Linked DNA regions of Homo sapiens: regions 1, 3, 4 and 5 are each linked to region 2. The links come from fine-mapping of genetic effects on plasma protein levels. A gene starts in region 2. Each other region holds a variant in brackets. All regions are shown on one strand. Distances are between the middles of the regions. Region 1 overlaps TCAF1 (TRPM8 channel associated factor 1). Region 2 holds the start of EPHA1 (EPH receptor A1). Region 3 overlaps LOC112267988 (a long non-coding RNA gene). Region 4 overlaps TCAF1 (TRPM8 channel associated factor 1). Region 5 overlaps EPHA1 (EPH receptor A1).

What was found. PIP is the chance, under the fine-mapping model, that this variant and not a neighbour inherited with it causes the effect. Protein levels are from antibody-based Olink assays in UK Biobank. Linkage for the fine-mapping came from a reference panel and not from the study's own genotypes, which makes the PIPs less certain.
Region 1: its variant is fine-mapped to the plasma level of the EPHA1 protein (UK Biobank, PIP above 0.99).
Region 3: its variant is fine-mapped to the plasma level of the EPHA1 protein (UK Biobank, PIP above 0.99).
Region 4: its variant is fine-mapped to the plasma level of the EPHA1 protein (UK Biobank, PIP above 0.99).
Region 5: its variant is fine-mapped to the plasma level of the EPHA1 protein (UK Biobank, PIP above 0.99). The variant lies in the coding sequence of EPHA1. If it changes the protein, the assay may bind it differently, which can mimic a change of level.

The regions. Positions count from the first base shown.
Region 1 is chr7:143,895,721-143,900,895 of GRCh38, reverse strand. All of the region lies in intron 1 of TCAF1 (TRPM8 channel associated factor 1), which reads left to right. It overlaps LOC105375549 (a long non-coding RNA gene), which reads right to left. Exons shown (of 3, transcript XR_007060574.1): 3 at 1-3,684. Among named protein-coding and RNA genes, the nearest start is that of TCAF1, 3.9 kb to the left of the region's middle. The variant A/G (reference allele first, on the strand shown) is at 2,435.
Region 2 is chr7:143,406,420-143,411,419 of GRCh38, reverse strand. EPHA1 (EPH receptor A1) reads left to right here and starts at 2,564. Exons shown (of 18, transcript NM_005232.5): 1 at 2,564-2,696; 2 at 3,742-3,809. The coding sequence starts at 2,615. It overlaps EPHA1-AS1 (EPHA1 antisense RNA 1), which reads right to left and starts at 3,607. Exons shown (of 5, transcript NR_033897.1): 1 at 3,534-3,607. RefSeq lists an enhancer at 1,880-2,492.
Region 3 is chr7:143,838,955-143,844,129 of GRCh38, reverse strand. It overlaps LOC112267988 (a long non-coding RNA gene), which reads right to left. Exons shown (of 3, transcript XR_007060571.1): 1 at 878-5,175. Among named protein-coding and RNA genes, the nearest start is that of TCAF1, 61 kb to the left of the region's middle. The variant TC/C (reference allele first, on the strand shown) is at 2,180.
Region 4 is chr7:143,889,534-143,894,708 of GRCh38, reverse strand. All of the region lies in intron 1 of TCAF1 (TRPM8 channel associated factor 1), which reads left to right. All of the region lies in intron 2 of LOC105375549 (a long non-coding RNA gene), which reads right to left. Among named protein-coding and RNA genes, the nearest start is that of TCAF1, 10 kb to the left of the region's middle. The variant T/G (reference allele first, on the strand shown) is at 2,576.
Region 5 is chr7:143,396,816-143,401,815 of GRCh38, reverse strand. It overlaps EPHA1 (EPH receptor A1), which reads left to right. Exons shown (of 18, transcript NM_005232.5): 3 at 211-492; 4 at 1,763-2,165; 5 at 2,403-2,558; 6 at 2,871-3,215; 7 at 3,368-3,495; 8 at 3,746-3,896; 9 at 4,159-4,255; 10 at 4,454-4,512. Among named protein-coding and RNA genes, the nearest start is that of EPHA1-AS1, 8.5 kb to the left of the region's middle. The variant C/T (reference allele first, on the strand shown) is at 3,060.

The sequences.
Region 1 (5,175 bases), 490 kb before region 2:
TAATGACATTATCCTGTACGTATTCTTAAGTTTTATAGATTCATCTTTCATGCTTCCTTCCATTTTCGTTTTCGTCATTTAAGGTGTAAATGTACATAATTTATCCATTCTACTGCTGATGGACATTGGATTGTTTCTACTTTTGGAGGTGTATGATTTATCTATAAGCTATGTAACAAATTACCCCAACACCTAGCAGCTTCAAACCAAAGCGAACAAACAAAACAAGTCCTGTTACCTCCTATCTTACAGTTTCTGTGATCAGGAATCCAGGAGGGGCTTAGCTGGGAGTCTCTGACTCAGGGTCTCTCACAAGCTGTATCAACAATCAAGGTATTGACTGGGCCTCAGTCATCTCAAGGCTAGGCGTAGGGTCGAGGACCTCTCCCAGGCTTACTCACATGACTGCTGGCAGGCCGATTGGCCTCACTGACCCTGGCTGTACACATCAGTTCTTTGCCACATGGGCCTCTGTATAAAGAATGGTTGCAACATGGCAGCTTACTCCCCCCAGAGAGAAGGCTCCCACAGAGAAAAAGAGAAAGACAGAAGTCAGATTCTTTCTGTAACCTCAGAAGCGACATCCCATTATTTTTGCCATTTTATATTCATTAGAAGTGAGTCCCTAGGCCCAACTCACACTGAAGGGAAGGGGGTGACACAAGGACATGAACACCTGGAGGCAGGGATTATCGGGGCCACTTTAAAGCCTGCCCATGTCCTCTAATATTCAAGTACACTTGTGTGGGAGCTTCCCTAGAGTATATAGCTGGGAGTAGAATTGCGGAGTTATAAGATTTATGTGTATTCAATTTTATTGGGTCATTTCTAAACTTTCCAAAGTGTTAAACCAGTTTGCACTCCCTCCAGCAGTGGATGAGCATTCTTGTTGCTCTACATGCTTGCCACAGCTTAGTCTTGTAAAATTACATTTTTTGTCAGTCTGGCAGGTATGAAATAGCATTTAACTGTGATTTTAACTAGCATTTTCCATAACTAATGAGATTGACTTTTTATATGTTGATCAGTGCTTTCTCTTTGTGAAATTCTGATTCCTGTCTCTTTCATTTTTGTATTGGATTGTTTGTTTACCTTTTTTATTGACTCATTGGAATGCTTTCTTTATATAATCTGGGTACGAAGCAGTAATTGTTAGCTATATATGCCACAGACATCTTTCCAATTTGCTTTTGAGGTTTTCTTTCTCTCTATGTCTTTATATCTGTTTCTTTCTCTGTTTCTATCAATGAATCTAAGTTTTGAATTTAATTTCAAGTTAGTAGTACTTTCTTTTATAGCTTTTCTTGTTTGATAATTGTTTTCTCAAGATCATAGATTAATTTTAGTGTATCGTTTTCTAAAAGTGTTATAGTTTTGCCTTTGGCAATTAGTCTTAATCCACATGGAAACTGATTTTTATGTTGTTTATTCCATATGGATAATCTGTTGCCCCAGCACCAGTGATTTGCATGAATCAGGATTTCCATATAAGCATGAATTCGTTTTAAGCCCCCATTCTTATTTTCTATTTGTCTAACTCTGCCTCAATACTAAATAATTTTTAACCACTATAGTTTTATTAAAAGCCTTGAAATTTGGTAGGAAAAGTCCTATCACCTGTTTCTTCTTCTTTAAGAGTGTTTTAGCTTTACTTGGACCTTTGACCTTCCATATAAATATTTAAATAAACTTATCAAGTTCTCCAAAACAAGAAACAAACAAGCAAATAAACCTGTTGGAATTCTGATTGATAATGGATCAACTCTGTGTCTTAGTCTGTTTTGTGCTACCATAGCAGAATACCTGAGACTGAGTAATGTATAAGGAACAAAAATTTATCAGCTCACAGTTCTGGAGGCTGGGAAGTCCAAGATTGAGTGGCTGGCATCTGGCAAGAAAGAGCCTTCTTACTGTGTCATTCCATGGCATAAAGGCAGAGAAAGGCTGAAAGAGAGTGTAAAAGGAGGGTGAATGCCGCCTTTTATAATGAACTCACTCCTACAGTGATGGCATTAATTCATTCACTCTGCTGTCATGACCTGATGGCCTCTCATTAAGCCCACCTCTTAACACCATTGCATTGGGGATTAAGTTTCCAACACCTGCTTTTTGAGGGACACATTCAAACCATTGCACTCTATAAATTATTTTGGGCAGAAATTATTTCTAAGACATTGGCCCTTTTCCTCAATGAACATGGTATATGACACTATTTAAGTCATCTTCAATGTTTTGTACTATTTTTTATTGTTTTCTTTTGGCTCAGTTTTTGTTAAATTTCTAGGCACGTCATATTTTTACTGCTATTGTAAGCATTTTCTTTTGTAAAAGTTATATTTTGTAGTTTATTGTTGCTGGCATACAGAAATTCAGTTGCCTTTTATATATTAATTATATATCAATCAAACTTGAGAAAATTAATAATTCTAAATTT[A/G]CCTGTAGCTTCTTTCAGATTTGCTACATAGGCAATCATATCATCCGAAAATAATGATAATTTTGTTTATTCGTTTCTAATTCTCATACCTTCAATTTATTTTTTCTGTCTTATGACAATGACTAGGAGCTCCAGTACACTGTTGAATAAAAGTAATAAAGGGCATCTTGTTTTGTCCTTAAGATAATAATGAGAAATATTTCATTATGTCAACTTAAAAATGACATTTGCTATAGTTACTTTGTAAATGTCTTCCCCATCATAAGAAAATTCTGTTCTTCTTTTGGTAAGCACTTTTATTATAAATGGATGTTTTTTCAAATGCTTTTCCTGTAGCTGTTGAGAATATATATACTTTTTTTCCTTTAACTATATTAACAACATAGTAAAGTATAGTATTTAATTTCTGATATTAAACCAATTTTGTATTCTTGGAATAAACCTTTTGTGGTAAATATGTAGTAATTTCTGTATGTGGATATAGATACAAAAGGTAAACATTGGATATTTATATTTATACGTGTGATTTAAGATTGGCATGTAATTATACTTTTCTGTACTATCCTTTTCTGATGCTGGTATTATCATAAAATAATATGAATAGTATTCTCCCTTATGCTATTCTTTGGAAGAATTTGTGCAAGATTGGGATTATCTGGTCCTTGAATATTTCCTTGAATCACCTGTAAAATCATCTGTGTTTGGAGTGTATTTTTTCAGAAGATTTTAATGATTATAGTACTATTTAGGTTTTCCTATGGAGTCAGTTGTAGTAAATTGTATTTTCCAAGATATTTAACAATTTCACATATACATGAATGTATCAGTATACGTACATGTATATGTTTATTCAATATATATAAATACATTTGACCATTGAACAATGGAGCAGTCGGGATACTGACCCCCCTCAGAATTGAAAATTTGTATATAACATTTGAGTCCTACAAAACTCAATACTAATAGCCTACTAATGAGTGGAAGTCTTACCAGTAACATAAGCAGTTGATTAACACATGTTTTATATATGCATTATATTCTTAACTAGAGAAAAAGAAAATGTTATTAAGAAAGTCATAAGGAAGAGAAAACATATTTACCATTCATTAAGTAAAAGTGAATCATCATGAAGGTCTTCCTTGTCATCTTCACATTGAGTAGGCTAAGGATGAGGAGGAAGGGAGGAGTTGGTGTTGCTGTCTTTGGGGGTGGCAGAGACAGAAGAAAATCCAGACCAACGCGGTTCAAACCTGGATTATTCAAGGATGAAGTGTTTATATATGAATATATATATATATATATATATATATATATATATATATATATATATTCAAGATTAACAAAATAAAACTGTTTATAAAATCCTCTCATTCTGTTTATAAATCTTTCCATTATCTATTGATATGGCCACTTTTTCATTGTTAATATGTGTACATTTTCTCTTTTTGTTTTAATTTTTCCAGAACATGGTCTACATTATTAGTTTTTCAAACACCAACATAAAAGCTTTATGTCTTTTTCTAATTTTTACCTATTTTATTACTTTCTTCTTTCTTTGAATTTTTTCTGTGATTTATTTTCTAAGCTTTTAAATTATATGCTTAGCTCATTAATTTTGAGCTTTTCTTCCTATGTAAGCTTTTAAAGCTATACATTTCTATCACTACTTTTTAGCTACATCTGACAAGTTTTGATATGATTATTTTTGACCATGTAGCTTTAATTATTTATAATTTTCCTTATAGTCTGTTCTTTGAGACATGAATTTTTTATAAATGTACCTTTTAAATTCCATTTGGCCATATGAAGTTTCTTTTGTTATCTTGTAGTTGTAGTTGCCTAATTTATATTGTAGTCAGAGATTGCATAGTGCCAATTCTTTTAAATTCGCTGAAGCTAGCTTTAAAACCCAGTAAGTTTTCTTTGTGTGCGTAAAAAGAATGTGTAGTCTGTAATTACATGATGTTCTGTGTATCAACTGTTTTAATTATACAACCCAATCTTACATATCTTTAACTTTTTATTTGCTTGAGTTGCCAATTACAGAAATAGGTATGTTAAATATTCTCACCATGATGGTGGATTTGATAATTTCTCATAAATGTATATATTTTTGCTTCATATATCTTGAGGCTATGTTATCAGTGAATTGTTGTAAATTGAACATTTTATCATAATGTAGGGACCTTACATTATGATACCTATTAATGTTTTCTGTTTTAAAATCGTATTTTTTTCAAAGATCAAATCAAGGTTTCTTTGGTTTTTGCCTCATTTATCTCTCTTTTATCGTTTGACTCTAACTCTTCAGAATCTGTTTTAAATATATATGTAGTAAACTTATTTGGATTTTTTAAAAGTCTGGATTTTTAAAATATTGTTTGACAATTTATAACTTGTCATTGAATAATCTGTGTATATTTATTGTGATTAGTAATACAAAGTTAGATTTATTTCTACCATCTTATTATTTGCTTTTTATTTTTCCTGCCTTTTATGTTTCTTTCCCTGCCCCTCCCCCCACCCATTTTTTTCCTTCTTTCTTTCTTTGCCCATTTTTTTCTTTCTTTTATTTGGAAGTTACATGTCTTAGTTCTGATGTTTTAATTTTATAATAGGTTTAACGCATATAATTCCTAATTTTTAAGATGTTTAACTAGTTTTATAACAGATTTAATTTAGCATACTTAAGTTAAATTGATCCTTAGTACCTTGTCTCTTACCCCGCAAGTATCAAATGA
Region 2 (5,000 bases):
AAAATCCTGCTAGCTTTTTATTTTCTGAGACCATCCCTGAATATAGCCTCAGAAATCATCTAGGTCTAGGGAAACTGAAACCATGGTCCAGAGAACATAAATAATTTGACAAAAGTTGTACTGCTAGTTAAGAACAGAGACTAAACTTGAAGATGTGCCTCCTCTCATGACAAACTAACCAGAAAATGTCAAATCAAGATAATCCTGAAAGGAGACAGAAAGTGGACATTCATTCCCCATATGCAGAGACTTTCAGACCAGGATAAAGAGCCTATCCTAAAACAAAAAGCAAGACTTTTTTTTCCAGGGTTCTAGACTCCATGTCTCACTGCATGGAGCAGTCTCCCCCACTCCACACACCCACCCCCCACCCCCCACCCTCTGGAGTCCCAAGGGTCTTGTAACTTTAACAAACTGCAGCAGCAAGCACATGCATTACCTCACCACAGTCTGGCTTATGTCCTAGCAGCAATTGTCCAACGCTTGCTCCATTTCCCCCCTTCTGTTGGCTTTGTACCCTTCGCCCATTCCTCCCTGCTGAAATCACAAAGCTCTGACCCCCGCCAGCCAGCGTGAGCCTCCTCCTCCTTCCTGGAGTCTTTAACATTAGAAAAGAGGCCTCTGGTGCAGAGCAATGTGTGTCAGATGGCCCCTCTGTATACACATTTTAAAAGCATGTAAGTGTGGGAGTAGAGGGAGAGAGGGAGGGAAAAATACACGATGGTGTGTACACAGCGAGGAAGCAATCCTGGGAGGACTTACAAGAAACAGTTGATGGTGGTTAACTTGGGGAACAGAAATTAGAGTGTTGGAGGGCAGAGGGTTCTACTTCCCATTTTGTTTCTGTATGTTCAACATGAATTTCCTAACCAATGTACATGAATTACATTTATTTATGCAAATAAGGATAGTCTGAGCCAAGAACTGATGGGCCGTGTTTGTCATATACGTATCTGCATAAGAAAGCAAAAAAAAAAAACAAAAAACCTGAGAAGCATTACATTTTGAAAATGAGAAAAAGCACCTATAATCCACCACCTCCCTTCATTCACAGTACCGAAATGTGCAACAATGTAAATGATAGAAAAATTATGAACAATTTACCCAGATGGGATGGAGCGAAAGAAGGAGGGGCCAGGAGTGGACCCCCAGCCTCTTTAGTAAATGCATCACTCCCCTTTGAGCTACTGTGATCCCTGTGTGTACCTTGCCTGGGGTCCACTCCTGCCCGCCATTTCAATCATTTGTGCAATTATTTATGTCTCAACCCCCAGCATCCCCAAATTAATAGCTTATATAGGGCAAGACATTGTCCTTCTGTTCTTAGGTGCTTCTAGAGCTTCCTGCATGCATAGCAGAAACTGAACAAACATTTACTAAATAGAATATAAGAAAGTCTCGGCAGAGCGCAGTAACTCAGGCCTGTAATTCCAGGACTTTGGGAGGCAGAGGCAGGGAGATCACTTGAGATCAGGAGGGATCACCTAAGGTCAGGAGTTCGACACCAGGCTGGCCAACATGGTGAAACCCCGTCTCTACTAAAAATAGAAAAATTAGCTGGGTGTGGTGGTGCACGCTTGACGCTTGTGATCCCAGTTACTCGGGAGGCTGAGGCAGGAGGATCGTTTGAACCAGGGAGGCGGAGGTTGCAGTGAGCCAAGATTGCACCACTGCACTGCAGCCTGGGCCACAGAGCGAGACTCCATCTCAAAAAAGAAAAAGAATATAAGGAAGTCCGCAAGAAAGTGAGAGGGCACGTGGTTTGACACCACTAAGATGGGTTAAAATATCCTTCCCTGCCACCTGTGGCTGGAACCTTAACCAGATATTCATGTCTGCTGTGTAAGTGCATGTCAAGGTTCAAACTCCTTTTCTTGTTTACCCAGCCCTGGCCCACACCTGCCTTTCTGCCCTGATTCCCAAGACAAATCCTGCGCCCCAGCAGTCAAACTGGTCCATTCACCACTCCCTGGGCGCACCTTGAGGCTCCCTGCCTTCAGGCCCTTGCTGGTGCCTTTCCCAATCTCTGCCACTGAAAACCCAGGTCACACCAGCTCTCCCTGAAGACTCAACTAATGTGCCCCGATGACTGGGCTTGCTTCCTCTTCTAATCTCCAGATGCTTCACTGCAGGTTGTACCCCACCTTGCATTGTGGTCATCTAAGCCTCCCCTGCTAGAGGGTGAAGATATGACTCTTACCCCTTGCCTTCCCCGGCCCTATTACCCAGCTCTGGGGCCTGCACAAAGACAGAAAGAGGAATATAGGAGTGTAATTCAAGTCAGAGGTAGAATTAGGTTAAAAGCTGGATCAAGATTGGGTTGAGTTTAGGATTAGAATTGGGAAAAGGTTCGTCAATTCTTAATCCCACCTACTAGGCGGCGCCCGCAGTCTCATTCGGGTCAAGACGCCTCCGGTTCTTGAATTTGATTACCAGTCTAGCAAGTTTCTTTCCTGCCCTACTGTCCCTTTAAGGAGGTGAACCAGGTGAGGCCGGGACTCCGCCCCCGGCGCTGGCCCCGCCCCCCGCCCCCGCCCGGCCCGCCCGGCTCTCCTAGTCCCTTGCAACCTGGCGCTGCCATCCGGGCCACTGTCCCAGGTCCCGGCCCGGAGCTATGGAGCGGCGCTGGCCCCTGGGGCTAGGGCTGGTGCTGCTGCTCTGCGCCCCGCTGCCCCCGGGGGCGCGCGCCAAGGAAGGTACCGACCCCCGCCCCCGCGCCCCCAACCCCCGCGCCCCGCCCCTTCCCGGGGCCCGGCCAGCACCCCCCTGCAGAAGCCGGCATTCCTAGGGGCCATGTTCCCCGAGACCCTCGCCAGCTCTCTCGCTGTGCCCGACCGCCAGGCTATCGACTGGCCAGGCCCATCTTTGGTCTTTAACCCCAAGCGGCTGCTCTCCCGGGTCAGTCACCCCCACTCCCGCAGGCCAGCAATCTGCTCCTGGGAGTGGGGAGGGAATTCCGGACCCTTGCCAGGAAGTAGCACCTGCACCCGCACCCCTGCCTGCATTCCCAGACAGTCCCAGCTTCAGGTGCCCACCCCAGAGATCTGAGCCCTTGGAAGTTGAAGGTGGGAAGTCGCCTCCTGCCAACCTAGGCCAGGGACAGAGGGAGCTGCCTCCGGGAGAAGGGTTAGGACTGACGCCACAGGGGTTCCCAGTTGTCCGAGTCGAATATTCCATGTGAAAGTTGGAACACCCTCTCCGGCCTTACTCCCCCCCACTTCCCAGGCAGGTAGCTGTGCCTCTTATCCCCACTTCACGGCTCTGATCACTGGCCAGGTCAGGCCAAAGCAGGCTTCGGACAGTGGAGGTGAGCCTCCCTACCCAGGAAACCCCTTCTGAGGTCCCCGGTCCACCCTGCCCACTCCTGGCTAGCAGAGGTGAGCTCCTCCTGCCCTCCACGCGTTCCAATCCTGCAGCTGATGGGTGTCCCAGGACGCAGCAGCCTGGGTAACTGAGCGTCTCGTGGGGCTGCTCTTCTTGCATTGACTTTGGTCAAAGACCCAGCGCCCCAACCCTTGTCCCACTCTACCTGCCTTCCTTCACACACACAAAGAAGAGTGAAATCCCTGGAGCTCTTCACTCCTCAGTCCTGAGCCCTTTTTCTCCCCTAAGCCTCAGGAAGTCACAGCTTTTAGGAACAGGATGTTGCAGCCTGGGGCTGAGGCCCCAGAATGATTAATGTGGGCTGCAGGGGCACCTCCTCCCCCAGAGGTGACAGACTTCTTTTCTCCCCACTTTCAGTTACTCTGATGGACACAAGCAAGGCACAGGGAGAGCTGGGCTGGCTGCTGGATCCCCCAAAAGATGGGGTAAGTGTCGGAAGAGGGAAGGATCTTGGAAAACTCCTGAAGGCCAGTGGGAAATGGGGTGGAGAGGTGGGTGGAGGAACAGAGAAAAGAGCAGGAAAAACTGGAAGTGTCTCCTCAGGGAGGGGGAGAGGAGGCTGAGTCAGAGCCTCCTCAATGGGACAAGGGGTGGGGGGGTCAGACTTCACCTCAAGATGAACGCTTGAATGGCCTGGCTCCTCCAGTGAATACTTGGGAATATTGTGAATACAAGCTGATACTTGTGAGGGGGAGAGGAGCTCACATACCCGGGGAGAGAATGCACCATGCTGGGGATGGTTGAAGGCTGAGACCAGTGCTTTGCTTGGGGAGGGATAGAAAAGGCAGAAAAGCATCCTCAATCTGAGATCCATTCATCCCAATGAAGTTGCATTGATAGGTTTCAGGGGGTGGGGAAACCCCATGAAAGTGTACTCTAAATTCTGTATATGTAAGCGGGCATTTTTTTTTCTGGAGAGACCAGCCAAAGCTTTCATCAAATTCTTCAAAGGGTCTTTGACTCCTCCGAAGTTAAAAGCTGCTCCCCTAAAGGTTTCTGAGCCCTTAGCTCATCCTCCACACCTCCTCAGGCTGACTGCGTGCACACCATGCATTCCAGCTGTTTGAAAGTGTCAGAGCTTGTTCCAGTTCCCTTCCTTCCTTGGATGTTCCTAAGACTCAGTGAACAGGTTGTGAGGTGGGTCTGAGAGAGCATATTCAGACTCAAATGCAGAGAGCAGCTCTTATGATGTACAAAAAACCAAACTCAGTTTTTTCCTACTGCACTCTCAACACAAATCACTTCGGTGACCTGTGGTCACCAAAATGCGTGTAGGGATTCCTCCCGCCTGCAGTCAGTTCTCTCTGGCAGATTCTTCAGTGGACAGTAGCTGAGTGTCCTCTAATCTTATTCAGTTCTTACACTATCTACCTGGAGATAGCCTCAGGTTGAGGGCTCAGCCCCACAAGACTGCCCTCCTCTAGACAACAATCACAAGTAACATGTTGTCACCTATACTTCTGTTCCATCGGCTGTAATCAGGTTTACCTGACCCTCCTCCTCGGGTTCAATTAGTTTGCTAGGATGGCTCACAGAACTCAGGGAAACATTGACTTGGATTTACTGGCTTACTATAACGGTTATTACAAATGGTACCATGAACACCAGATGGAATA
Region 3 (5,175 bases), 430 kb before region 2:
ACAGGTAACTAGGCCTTAGATGTTGACTCTTTTTTGCCAACAAAAGTAGCAGACTCTATCCCTTCTTTCAAGACTATTTCCCTCCTCTGTTCTCTACTCCTTACAAAGCCTTTGTACTCCTGCTTGGCTTCTACTCTTAAAATGATTTCTTTCTTTGACCCACATCATTGCAGTCAGTCTTCAATAGGGAGTGGGCAGAAGGTGATCTTCAACTTCTCAGAGATCTTTCTTCTAACTACACAAAAAAACAACTTACCTCACAATCAAGACAACTAAGAAATGCTTCCTATGCATTTGGATTCTTGTGCATTTCAGTGCTATAAAGAAGCATTTCTTTGATAGGAAAGCTTGAGTAGCTTAAGTTATTGATGTTCTAGTCTGAGACTGGGTGCGTTTCATAGGTGCTCATTATATTAGAAATAAATAGAATAAAGGGATGAGTAAATAAATGAAAGATAAATAGAGGTTGGGAAGCAACTGCAACTTAAAAAAAAAATGTAGTGACCAATGATGACAGTTAGGAACCAAGGTTTATTTTAATACAAATATGTGTACCTGAAGGTCATTAAAAAGTTACTTCTATTCTTAGGAACTCAAATATACATAATTGGTTAAGAAATCTGTACATGTAGGTACTAAAAAAATATTTCCATGAATCGCTTAGTGACATAAAATTCATTTTTCACATACTGCCAAAATTATTTAGAATATTTAAAGTCTGAGATAGTGCCCAAAGGGGGTTAGGGGAGGACAAAATGATCAAACATACAATATAAAAACAATCTATAAAAGAGTCTAGAAGAGATCTCACAGGTTTAGAGAGAAGACCCCTCTTCTTCCTGAACAGACCCCGTAGGCCAGGGCCCAGCAGGCTTACCTATTGTCTGTGGTTTCTGTGCTGCAAACAGGAGCCTAAAACCTGCAAATAGGTTATAAACCTTTTCTTGACCCTCCACCAAGGTAGATAGGCAAGTGGAGCTTTAATAAAACAGAGTTTTTCCTTTTCTTCTTGCTGCTTGTGTAGCCTTGGAGCCGACCTATTCCAAAGGAGAAAATAATAAGCCTTAATTAAGGCTTTTGACATTTAACCACAAGACAACTGGCACTATGAGCTTGTTGCTCTCAACACCTAGAGCAGAGTTAAATCTCAGATCCTCATAGAAAACTCTGAGATAAACTATTTCAGCTGGCAAAAGCATTAAAAGACAAACAACTGACTTGTGTCCGTAATGTTAGAGTGACCTTTAGCAGAAAGCCTGGTGGATCTCTAGCACTGGTAAAAGTACTTTTGGCTATAGGGCATTATTAATGTTATTAACGCACTAATAGTACATAATATTATTAATGCCCTACAGCCAAAGACCAATGGAAACACACCTATAATTAAACAAGTTGAATCTGTTGTTCATTGCAGCTAGGGAAAATGCACACCATAGAGAACTGTGGGTATATCAGTAAAAAGGTGTCAGAAAGAACCTATTATAGGCTGTGGGCTTTGGTTGGATAGTTTTGGGAAGTGTCTGAAGAAGGGAGACTTTGTTTTGGATGACATACTGTCAAGAACCAGAAACAATTCTACAACTACGATCTCAATACATATACAAGGAGAGCTGACTAAAATAAGCATAAAGGCTGGGCGCGGTGGCTCACGCCTGTAATGCCAGCACTTTGGGAGGCCAAGGTGGGCAGATCACCTGAGGTCAGGAGTTTGAGACCAGCCTGACCAACATGGAGAAACCCCGTCTCTACTAAAAATACAAAATGAGCCGGGCATGGTGGCGCATGCCTGTAGTCCCAGCTACTCAGGAGGCTGAGGCAGGAGAATCGCTTGAACCCAGGAGGCTGAGGTTGTGGTGAGCTGAGATTGCACCATTGCACTCCAGCCTGGGCAACAAGAGTGAAACTCTGTCTCAAAAACAAACATAAATAAAATGAGAATAAAGCTGCGATTGGTTTCTAAAACGTGCAATTACTCATTTTAGATAACAGAAGGATGATCAGTATTTTGTGGGTTGCATGGTGATCGTGTATGTGCCTTACTTTATGACGGTCTCTGAGTGACCTTATCTGATGTTGATGTTTTCTGAAATTGTTTTTGTACAATGGGAGAACAATATGGCCTCGCTGTTAGCGCCAGACAAGTTTCTGGATGGCAGGAGCTGCTGCTTTTTTTTTTTTT[TC/C]TCAGTTCAAAGGTTTAAAAAGGGAGAACCTTTGCTCTTCTTATAGAGATTCAAGTCTGCATTTCTCTTGATTGACCACAAGGGACAGACTGAAAAAAAAAATAATAGCAGAAAGTATGCATGATGTACCTTGGGAAAGGATAGTTCCGTACAGATCCCCTAGACTTGGTGGAAGTCTTGGGGCAAACCAAAATGAAATTAAGACTACACGTCTCAATATATAGTGAAAAGCCTTGAGAAGGAATGATCTTGATGTCACAGGAACTTTGTAATTAGTCCACTGGGAAATAATTGTTTACATTTTCAAATAAGTAAATAAATAGACAATAATAGTCGCTGGTCCCATAGGAGTAGGGATTTAGACTCACTCTCTGTAGGAATTTTCTTATATAGTATTGACCTACTATGACCCTCAATTCCCATACACTATCCCCCGGCATATTGATATCTACAACCCTTGTGGGATTGTGAATGAAGACATTTATATTACACTGATGTAGGTGCAATTAAAGAAAATTGGATCTACTGAGCACCTGTCCAATGAACCTGATATTTCAAAGGCAGAAAGAGAAAAAGGACATCCACTCTCATTCTTGGGCTAACTCAGTTCCACTGGCTCCAAGACAACTGAAATCTTCAGGACAAAATCAAACTTTATGTCTGGTCTGGTGGTGGGAGAAACAGTTTATAAATGTAAGAATATCTCTTCTCACCCCCACCCCAGCCATGTTCCTTACTAGAGGAAGAAAGTTTCAGTACCTCTGGAGTGGCAGTGATGTGTTCCAAGACATCCTCTGTGATTGGAATATAACTGGCTCTTACCACGTATGTTTCACACACTTATGATCCAAACAGAAAAAAAAAATGTATGCCCAAGTATATTTTACAGATATGCCAAAAGCAGAATATGAAAACTTTTATAACTCTGAATTAGGGCTGGCCGCTTGTCAAGAGAAGCAACAAACTCCCCCATTGCTTCAAAGTTCCACTGTTTTCAATGAAGACGCAGGCAGGAACTTGCCCTTGGAGATAGACCATGCTACAATTGGAATAAAAGTTATTATAAATGTACTAAAGAATGAAACTTAATGGGTGAGTGTTTCATAGATACTCTCAAGTTAGTAACCTTGCTTTTTACTTCCACTACAACACAATTTTAGTAATTACACTTGAGAGATTTAAAGTGAGGAGATATAATTATGACAGTACTTGTGTTATTCTGGGTCCTCCAAGAAGCAAAAGCCAAGACAGGATCAGATATGCGAGAGATTTATTAAAGGAAATGCCTGTGAGAGAAAATGTCGAGGGAGCCAGAGAAGGCCGGGAGAGCCACCATTAGACTGCAATGTAGGTTTAACCCTTGGGAAGGAGACAGCAAAGGAAAGACAGGCTTCCACTGAAGTACAGGTCTCAGAGAGTTTCTTTCAGGACCATGAGGAGTCCTTGAGCCAAACTCACCTATCGGGAGAGTCCCATGTCTTCCAGGAATGGGCCTGCCTGAGGATCCTCACTACATTTGATCACCAGCCTGGAGAAGCCCCTGGCAGCATGGCCTTGGCGCCAAGGATTCCAGAGCACACCAGCTGGGGCCATCTGGCAATTTCATACCCACCCCCTGCAGTTGGACATCTGAGAGGAACATTTTCATCACCACCATAGTACTCATTCTTAAGGCAGCTGTAGACACCTGTTCTGGATCATCTTAAATAGTGACTTAGTGAACTTCCCCAGTGACTCATACCAGTAAATGTCCATAGGTGGATTCATCCATCTCTGTTCCTAAATTAGAGTGTGGCTAATTCTTCCCAGATTCTTAAGGTCCTTAAAAGAAAGAATATATGGTACCACATTAAGTTAAGCTCATGACTGAAAATAATTTAAGAAGGAGGCCAGTGACTATTAATAGTAGCCCACAATTAGAAGGCATATGTATGAGTAACCCCTGCATCTGGCTTAGTGATAAACTGCAATTACTGCAGCAATTGCTCTCTATTTGACAAAAAATGGACTCATGTACCACTGGTAAAGATAATATTTCTGATTTGTGTTTGCCTCTTGTATATGCTGGACAATGAAGTATAATATTGTTTATGTATATTTATTACGTATAACCCAGAAAGAGTCTGTCATGGAAGCACAAGAAGTATGAGTTAGCCTGCCTGATTTAAGCTAATACAGATCTATCCTTGGAAATGGAGATGAATTCATTGTCCCCTGAATCTCATAAAGGAGAGGTGGATTATCTGATTTAAAAAAAAAATGGATTTGGTTAGAAAGGACAATAGGGGTAGTGTAGGGAATAGATGTTGAGGAGGCAACCACAGTGTTTACTAAATGGTGCTTTTAAAAAATCTTCCTCCACACTGTAGAATGGAATCCAAACTCCCTAGTATGGCAGCCAAAGTCCCTCTAAACCGAGCCCAAACTTCTCTTTAGAGCTAGCACTATGCAAGTTCTGCTAACAAGTTTCAGTCACTATGAACATTTTGTCTTTCTCAAATTAAGCCTTTCACATTCATATCTCTGTGCTTTGGAATCTTATACAGCCTCACATTGTAATACCTTCCCCTTTATCTCCCCGCAAATATACATTTTTCTAAGCTGAGTTTCTGTGTCACCTTCTGTGCACATTCTTCTCTAATCCTTTGATCAGAAATAATTGCTGCTTCTTTTATGTGCCCTTGCACCTGATTCGTAGCCAATTTTGGTATAGTTGTTTTCTTGTCTTTTTTCCTCTCTAGATTTACTGACCATAATAGCATTTCTATCTCCCAGAGTGCCTCACAGAATAAGTGTCCAGTAAGGATATGTTGACTTTCACTGAATGGCGTCTGTTTTCTCCCAAGTAAAAGGAAAGATCTGGGGCCTGCACCTTTGCATAAGCAGTAACCATTTCGAAGCTTATCCAACCCACCTTATTTTCGTTGTTGTTGTTGTTGTTCCGTTTTCTTTTATTTTAGGTTTCTAGCTGCCTGAACTCACGGTTTTTAGTTTC
Region 4 (5,175 bases), 480 kb before region 2:
TTATTGTTAATAAATCCAAACATTTATGCTTAGGACTTGAGTTGTATTGACGAGAATTTTGCCTACCTCTAGGTCACAAAAAGATTCCTTATGCTTAATAGTTCTACCATTCACATTTAGTTTTATAATTTATCTCAGAGTATTTTTTGTATATGATATGAGGTATGGGTTAAGGGTTCATTGGTTTTTATATAGACATCTAATCAATCAAGAACTACTTATTGAAAAGGCATTTCACACCATTAGACTTTTTGAATCTATGTTCATTGAGTAATATTCGTCTCTAGGTTTTTGTTCTTATAATGTACTTACGAGATTTTGCTATCAAAGTTATGCTGGGTGTAATAAAAATGAGTTGGGAAGAGTTTCTTCATTTACTAGTCTCTGGAAGAAGTTTTATGATATTAGTATTATATTTTTCTCAAGTGTTTAGAAAAATTCACCATAAAAATCCTTTTGGGACTAAACTTTTTTGCAGAATGTTTTTGATTTTGGACTGCATTTTTTTTATGTATAGGATTATTTATATTTTCTGCTTCTTCTTGCTGTTTTGGATAAATTATGTTGTTTAAACAATTTGCAAATTCATCTGAGTTTGTTAAATTTATTGGCATATGATTACTTGTAATATCACTTTGTTATATTTTTAATGTCTTTTGGGACTGCAATAATGTCCCCTGATAATTATAATGGATTCTCTCTCTGTGTCTCTTTATTGATCATTCTTAGTTTGGTTCATTAAAACCAACTTTTGGTTTTACTGAATTTCTAAATTTTTTAAAATTTGATTCTTGCTTTTATGTTTATTATATTCTCTGATTTACTTTAAATTTGTTATTCTTTTTCTAATGTTTTGAAATAGTTTACTTTCAGTCTTTCCCTTTTATTAATGTATGCATTTAGAGCTATAGAGTTTTCCTTTATTAAGTAATTCCTTTATTAAGTAATTGCTTTTGCTGCCTCCTGCAAATTTTGATAAATTGTATTTTAATTATTATTTAGTTAAGATATTTTCTAATTTCCATTGTGATTTCTTCTCTGACCTAAGGGGTGTTCAGAAGTGTGATCCTTAATTTCCAAACGTGGGAATTTTCTAATTAAATAAATAAAAATTATTTATTTCTGGTTTAATTCCATTAAGATCAGAGAATATATTCTACATCTTTTTGAGTTTCTTGAGACTTGCTTCATACCCAGTATATGTTTTATTTGAGAAAATGTTTGACACGCACTAAAAATCATGTATATTCTGTTGTTGGTAGGTGTATATGTACCATATGTGTCAACAGGGTCAAATTTGTTAATTATGTTATTCAAATCATGTATATCCTTACTGATTTTTATGCACTTGTTTATTCAGATTACTGAGAAAAATGTACTTAAATCTTCAACTATGCTTGTGGACTTGTCTTTTCTTCTTTTATTATTGTCAACTTTGCTTTATAAATTTTGAAGTTATTAAGGATACAAATTTAAAATTTTTGTATTGCTGTACTGAATTGATCCTTTTATCATTATGAAATTTGTTTTATATCTACAGTAACACTTGCTGACAGTAATGTTTACTTTGCCCATTGTACATAAGCCATACTAGCTTTCTTTTGGTTAATGTTTGCTTGGTGTACCTTTTTCCATCCTTTCACTTTCAATATTTCTCTTCTAAATGAACTCTTTTTCTAATTGGATTTTTAATCCATTTATATTTAGTATAATTATTTATATAGTTGGTATCTTAGTTGTTTTGGGCTGCTGTGACACAAATGTGATAGACTGGTGGTTAAACAACAAACATTTAAAGATAAACCAGCAGATTTAATGTCTGGTGAGGGCTGGCCTCCTAGCTTATAGACAGCTACCTTTCTCACTGTATTTTCACATGGCCAAGAGAGGGAGCTCTAGTCTCGTTCTCGTCTTATAAAGATACTAATCCCATTATGAGTGTTTCACACTCATGACATCATCTACATCTAATTACCTCCCAAAGGCCCACTTCCTAATACCATTCCATTGGGGGTTAGAATTTCAACATACAAATTTTGGAGGGACACAAACATGCAATCTATAAATATTGGGTTTAAGCAAGGTTGCAGTGAGCCGAGGCAGCAGTGAGCCAAGATCGCACCACTGCAATCTAGCCTGGCAACGGTGACACTCCTTCTCCAAAAAAAAAAAAAAAAAAATTGGGTTAAAGTCTACCAATTTGCACAGTTTTCTCTTTGTTCCATTTCTTCTTTGTTATTTTCTCTTTTCTTGATTTCTTTCGAATTCAACACTTTCTATTAATTTTTCTTCAATATTTTGAATTATAATTTTTTAAATTATTTTAATGGTTACTTTAGATATTACAGTTCACCTTATTGATTTATTATGACCTACCTTAAATTATTACTTCTATGTATTCTCAATGCAAAATTTTAAGTTTATCTCCATCTTGCAGCTGTACTATTGTCTGTTTTATTTTTTATATGCTTCTGTATTCCATAAGGCATTTTGTTTATTTAAACAGTCAATATTCATTTATATTTGCCTATGTATTTACTCTTTTCAGTGTTCTCTATTAATTCCTACAGCACTG[T/G]ACTTCTATGAGGAATAATTTTCATAAAAAATTAGTTTTAGTAGTTATATTCTAGTGGAAAATGCTTTCAGCTTTAGTGTATCTAAAATTACATTGCCTTTATTTTTGAGGAATATTTTTCTTGTGTATAGAATTTTAGGTTGGCAGATTTTTCTTTTTCTTTCATCTTTTAGGAATTCTGTTGTGTTCTTATTTTCATCACTCTTTTGAAAAATTAGCTGTATTTTTTGTTCATTTAAATGAAAAGTATCCTTTATCTCTGGCTGCTTTTCAGATTTTCTCTATGAATTTGGTTTTCAGCAGTTTGAATGTGATGTGTCTCAATGTAGTTTTCTTTCTGTGTATTCTGCTCGGGGAACATAAAGTTTCTTCAGCTTGTGGTTTGATGTTTTTCAAATCATTAATTGATAACATTTTGCTTGTTTTATTATCTCCTTCCTTTCCGTCTGGGACTGTGATTACTCATGTGTCACAACTTTTCACCCTATCTCATAATCCTGTTACACTCTTTCTGTATCTTTTGATCTCTTTGTGTATCATGTTTTCTTTCCTCTTATGTTATGTATGGATACTTTCTACTTACCTTTGCTATACTTCACCAATTCTCTGGTCTTTTGTGTCTAATATGCTATTAAAGCAATCTATTAAGTACCAATTTTAATTATTATTATTTTTCTTTTTTAATTTTTCATTTTACTTTTTTATGAGTTTTATTTCTATGCTGAAATTCCACAGCCTTGTTTCTAATTTCTTAACGTATGAATCACAGTTAAGTTCTCTAAGAACTCAAGTATCTGAACCACTTGTGCCTGTGTTTATTTTCTGTTATTTCTCTTGAGTTATTGGCAACTTATTCTGTTTTTTTAACTGCTTTCCTAATTTTTGATTCAATGCAGAATATTGTGGATGAAAAAATATAAAGGTTTTGATTGATGTTATTTTCTTTCAAGAGGATTTTTTGGGGAAGTGGGCAGATAAAGTACCAGCAGATTACTTTGATGCTATCAAATATTAGTTTTAGGCTTTGTTAGGACTAGCCCATTTAAGGTTTGATCTTTCTCCAAGAACATAGTCTTTAAACCATAAGATATGCTTCTTCATATGTCAGGGATTTTCTTATGTGTCAACTGAAATCATGGAGTGTTTATTAGAATGTTTCTTTTTGTTGGGGCATAAACTCCATTGCTTTTCTCAGAACAATATAACCACTGAAATGACTGCTCAACTGTTTAGCTCTTTGGCCACTATTTCCTACAAGTTTCCTTGAGGTCTCTCCTATTGCATGCATAGCTTAGGAATCAGCCAGTGACATTAGGGGAATTCATATATAAAATTTTAGATTAACTTGTCTGGTTTCTTCATGTCTGAAACTTTGCCCTTTGAGCTCCACCTGGTTTGATAGTCTTGAACCAGTAAGACTGACACTTCCTTTTCAGCCTCAGTAACCCTGCACTGTAAAATGAAAAATGCCCGAAAGTAAAAAGCAATAGCGAATATACAACTCATGTCCTGTGTTTTCTGTTCATCAAGGATTATAGTCCTTTTGTCCTGTTTATGTTGTTTACTTTTCTGAGTCTTCAGTTGGTTTCCTATATTTTGTTGAGCTTTTATTATTGTTTCCAATGGGAGGATTATTCCAAAGATATGAGGGAATTTCAAGAAGTTTGTGGGAATAATGGAATTAAAAATTTTTTGAAAAATAAATGTTGCCTCAACATAAGCCCCTTCAAGTTCAAGACACTTTTGTAAGCAGTGATAACAGCAATTTAGTCCATCACTAAGAAACTGAAGGTCCTAGGAATTTAGCCATGTAGATACAGTATTTTTACATTATTAACCAAACAAAAATGGGTGCCCTTCTCCCAGCACTTTGGGAGGCCGAGGCGGGCGGATCACAAGGTCAGGAAATCGAGACCATCCTGGCTAACATGGTGAAACCCTGTCTCTACTAAAAATACAAAAAATAAAATAAAATAAAATAACTGGGTGTGGTGGCGGGTGCCTGTAGTCCCAGCTACTCGGGAGGCTGAGGCAGGAGAATGGCGTGAACCTGGGAGGCGGAACTTGCAGTGAGCCGAGATCGAGCCACTGCACTCCAGCCTGGGCAACAGAGCGAGACTCCGTCTCAAAAAAAAAAGAAAAATGGGTGCCCTTCACAGATTTTTTGAGATTAGGAAACGAAGTCAGAAGGAGCCAAATCAGGACTCTAAGGTGGATGCCTAATGATTCCCCATTGAAACTCAAAATTGCCCTTAGTTGATGAGAGGAATGGGCAAAGTCATTGCCATCGTGGAGGAGGACTGTCTGGTGAAGCTTTCCTGGGTGTTTTCCTGCTAAAGCTATGGCTGACTTTCTCAGAGCACTACAGTAATAAGCAAATGTTATCATTCTTTGGTCTTCCAGAAAGTCAACAAGCAAAACACCTTGAGCATCTCAAAAAACTGTCACCATGGCCTTTGCTTTTGACCCATCTGCTTTTGCTTTGACTGGACCACTTCTGCCTCTTGGTAGCCATTGCTTTGATTCTGCTTTGTCTTCAGGATCATACTGGTAAAGCCATGTTTCCTCTCCTGTTACAGTTCTTTGAGGATATGCTTCAG
Region 5 (5,000 bases), 9.6 kb after region 2:
GGGACTATTGTCTTGCCCATCTTATATCCAAACAAATCCCCAACCCTAAACACTCAGTCTACTGTCCTGGAGCTGAGGGGTGGGGAGAGGCAGAACAAGTAGCATAAACCTGAGGGGCTCTGACACAGCTGCTTCTCCATCAGCTCTAAAAACCAAGGGTTTGGGGAGCAGGGGATGATCTGGTCCCTGACTCTGATTTCCTCCTTGCAGTGGAGTGAACAGCAACAGATACTGAATGGGACACCCCTGTACATGTACCAGGACTGCCCAATGCAAGGACGCAGAGACACTGACCACTGGCTTCGCTCCAATTGGATCTACCGCGGGGAGGAGGCTTCCCGCGTCCACGTGGAGCTGCAGTTCACCGTGCGGGACTGCAAGAGTTTCCCTGGGGGAGCCGGGCCTCTGGGCTGCAAGGAGACCTTCAACCTTCTGTACATGGAGAGTGACCAGGATGTGGGCATTCAGCTCCGACGGCCCTTGTTCCAGAAGGTGCTGCTTCCCTCCATGCCATCTGGGTCCTGGTGCAGATCCCTGGTGGCTCCTTATTGGGTGCCAGAGAAGGTTGCAGAGACAGGAAGAGGGTGCAGAGGTAGAATCTTGAAAAGAATTTGGCGCTTGAAGGCTGGGCATGGTGGCTTGTGCCTGTAATTCCAGTGCTTTGGGAAACCGATGTGGGAAGATCACTTGAGGCCAGGAGCTTGAGACCAGCCTGGGCAACATAGCAAAACTTCATCTCTGCAAAAAATTAAAAATCACCTGGGCATGGTGGCCCATACCTGTAGTCCCAGCGACTCAGGAGGCTGAGGCAGGAGGATCACTTGAGCCCAGGAGTTTGAGGCTGCAGTGATCTATGATTGTGCCACTGTACACCAGCCTGGGCAACAGAGCAAGATCCTGTCTCTAAAGAAAAAAAGAACAGTGTGGCATTGGAAATCAGAAGGGCTGGATTTGAGTATCTTTTCTGCTGTGCCGTGACTTTGGGGGTGTCATTTAACCTCTCCAGCTTTTGTTGCCTAGTCATAAAATAGTGACAACAATAGGGCCAGCTATATCTATTTTATAGGCTTTTATAAGCATCCACTGAGATCACAGGATACCATGGGGAGGAGGGAAGTGTAGCACAGAGTTATTTAGACTTTTCCTATTGATACCCACGATGTTCATAAGCAACCCACTCCCATAGTATCACTGGAGTCATGTAGCAAGACAATTCCCTGCAGGCTAGTACTCTCCAGCACATCCCTTTCTTTCCTACTCAAAAAAACATCCTGGGATGCAGAAGAGTAAGGAGCATTTTATGATAGGATATGCTCTTGTTTCTTTCCAAAGAGAAAATGTTGTAAAATTTGTTACTAGTAATAAATTGATAACGATATGCTCTATAACTCATCATGTTATTGGCACTGAGTTTGGGAATGCCTCTGAATAGCAGAAATTGTATGGACTGTAGAGTCCCAATGCCTGGATTCCAGTCCTAGCCCCATGATGTGGTAGCTGTGTGATCTTATACAAGGTCTTTATCTTCTATTAGCCTTGGTTTCCTCATCTATTAAATAGAGACAATAAGCCATCCTACCTCATAAGAGGATTGCATGAGCTAAATAGCATAATGCACATAAAATGCTTAGCCTGGCACCTCACACATACAAGGCTCAGTGTTCATGGTTGTGGAAAGTATTAAGCAAACGATTGTTTCTGTTATGTGGGAAAGAAGCAGGACTTTGCCATTGCTCCCCTTTCTTCCCCACCTTCTACCCAGGTAACCACGGTGGCTGCAGACCAGAGCTTCACCATTCGAGACCTTGTGTCTGGCTCCGTGAAGCTGAATGTGGAGCGCTGCTCTCTGGGCCGCCTGACCCGCCGTGGCCTCTACCTCGCTTTCCACAACCCGGGTGCCTGTGTGGCCCTGGTGTCTGTCCGGGTCTTCTACCAGCGCTGTCCTGAGACCCTGAATGGCTTGGCCCAATTCCCAGACACTCTGCCTGGCCCCGCTGGGTTGGTGGAAGTGGCGGGGACCTGCTTGCCCCACGCGCGGGCCAGCCCCAGGCCCTCAGGTGCACCCCGCATGCACTGCAGCCCTGATGGCGAGTGGCTGGTGCCTGTAGGACGGTGCCACTGTGAGCCTGGCTATGAGGAAGGTGGCAGTGGCGAAGCATGTGTTGGTAAGAACGGAGGCGGTGAGAACCTGAGGAACCACTCGGGAGGATTGCAGGAGTACCCCGGCAGAGAAGGAGGCCAGTGCTCCGCCTCAGTGGGTTTTTAACCTGAGTGTCCCAGAGCAGCGGACACACACATGCAGAGATGTTTCCAGTAGAAGGGATTGGGGCAGGAAGGGGTGGTGGTGGTTCTGCCTGTAAAAACATTTACAGAACCACTGCTCTGCTGCGTTCTCTCTCCAGCCTGCCCTAGCGGCTCCTACCGGATGGACATGGACACACCCCATTGTCTCACGTGCCCCCAGCAGAGCACTGCTGAGTCTGAGGGGGCCACCATCTGTACCTGTGAGAGCGGCCATTACAGAGCTCCCGGGGAGGGCCCCCAGGTGGCATGCACAGGTGAGTCCAGGGGGTGGGGCGTGGCCATCTGGAGGGAGGGGCTGGATCTTTGCTGAGACTTTGTCAGGGTTGGATTTTTCCAGAGCTTGTCAGATATTGGAGATGGTCCAGGGTGTCAGGCACTTTTAGCCCCTGCCCTGGCACCCTGCTCTCCCTAGAAGAATGCAGAGATGTAGTCAAACCCAGTAGAAATCAAATCTCCCCAAGAGGACTTCAGAGGACATCGAGAATTGGGTGGTGGTGGAGGCCGGGGATCAGCAGCTCGGGTGACAGCGAGGTCGGCTTCTACTGATGGCTCCTCTTCTCCCACAGGTCCCCCCTCGGCCCCCCGAAACCTGAGCTTCTCTGCCTCAGGGACTCAGCTCTCCCTGCGTTGGGAACCCCCAGCAGATACGGGGGGACGCCAGGATGTCAGATACAGTGTGAGGTGTTCCCAGTGTCAGGGCACAGCACAGGACGGGGGGCCCTGCCAGCCCTGTGGGGTGGGCGTGCACTTCTCGC[C/T]GGGGGCCCGGGGGCTCACCACACCTGCAGTGCATGTCAATGGCCTTGAACCTTATGCCAACTACACCTTTAATGTGGAAGCCCAAAATGGAGTGTCAGGGCTGGGCAGCTCTGGCCATGCCAGCACCTCAGTCAGCATCAGCATGGGGCATGCAGGTGAGAGGCTGAGAGGGGCTGGGACAGGGACCTGGTGGAGACAGAAGGGCTTAAGACCACAGAACAAACTGATGGGCAGGAAGCCATAGAAAAGTTACTAAGGTTATTTCCTTTTTCCTTACATATCCAACCTTATCCCTCTGGACCCCCAGAGTCACTGTCAGGCCTGTCTCTGAGACTGGTGAAGAAAGAACCGAGGCAACTAGAGCTGACCTGGGCGGGGTCCCGGCCCCGAAGCCCTGGGGCGAACCTGACCTATGAGCTGCACGTGCTGAACCAGGTCAGGATGCTACTGAGAGATGGTCTTCAGTGTCCATGCCCGGGCACACCCCAACATTCCTAGCCTGGGGTGTGGGTTGGGAGGAATCCACCCGAAGTCCACTGTGTGGCTTTCTCAGGACAAAAGTCTATGAAGAACCCTGTCCTAACCATTCTGCTCTCCAGCCCCTCCCCATGTGCTCTGATGCTGTCCATCACATCCACCCGGGTCTGGCTCAGCACTGCCCACTTAATGCAACTCCAACCCACAGGATGAAGAACGGTACCAGATGGTTCTAGAACCCAGGGTCTTGCTGACAGAGCTGCAGCCTGACACCACATACATCGTCAGAGTCCGAATGCTGACCCCACTGGGTCCTGGCCCTTTCTCCCCTGATCATGAGTTTCGGACCAGCCCACCAGGTGGGGTATCTTGTGCTCTGCCCCAACACACATACACCTGTTGCCTCACTGAGGCAACTCAGCTCCTGTTCCACGTAGTGACTTTTCCTCTTCCTCTACACACATGCACACACACTCCCTTCTTCCGGGGGTAGGGGACAGACACCGACCTGATGCACACTGAAAGGTCTGACCCTAGGTGTACCCAGGGCCCTGCCCTTTAACCCCCCTCATTCCTACGGACTGTGAGTCCCAACACTTCCTCATCCCTTTGTGCCTACAGTGTCCAGGGGCCTGACTGGAGGAGAGATTGTAGCCGTCATCTTTGGGCTGCTGCTTGGTGCAGCCTTGCTGCTTGGGATTCTCGTTTTCCGGTCCAGGTGCCAGCTCCTGCCCCCTCCCCAACCACCAGCCCTGGGTCAGAAGCCCCTGACTGCAGCCCCAACGACCCTCCCATCCCCTAGTATCAAAACCCATCCTGCACTCCCAGCCCGTTTCTGGGGAAGATTCAGCCAGAGTCCCTCGGACCCCTGAGGTGGTCCTGGGGCCCTGAAGGAGCTGGTCCCCAACCCCCACAGGAGAGCCCAGCGGCAGAGGCAGCAGAGGCAGCGTGACCGCGCCACCGATGTGGATCGAGGTGAGTCGGGTGCACCTGCGTGTGTCCCCACATGCGTGTGCACACCTGTGTGTGCGTGTGTGTGTGTGTTGGGAGATGCCACTGGGAAGGGATCAAGGGACACATTTGCTAGGCCAACTCTGGGGGCACATGTGGGGTTTGTTGTCCCCAGGGCTCTTGTGTTTTGCTACCTAATTAACTTTGGTTAATTAACTATGTACTGGTAGCCCCCCAGTGGCTCTGATGCAATTATCTGTTAGTGTCCGTTCACTGCTGGTGCCGCTGTCTTGTCACCCTGGGCTCTGGACAGCCCTCCCCATCCTGGAGGCCAGGGCTGTGGGCCGAGGCCAGGCGGGAGGAGGATTGACGTCCTCCGAGGCTTATGAGCTTCTTGCTTGTCACCTCATTAGGTGACCCACAAAGGGGAGAGTGAGGGGTCCATCCGGGCAGCTGGGGTGGGAGCCATGCGCGGCTCTGTCTGGGAATGTGAACGAGGTGTGACTGACCAG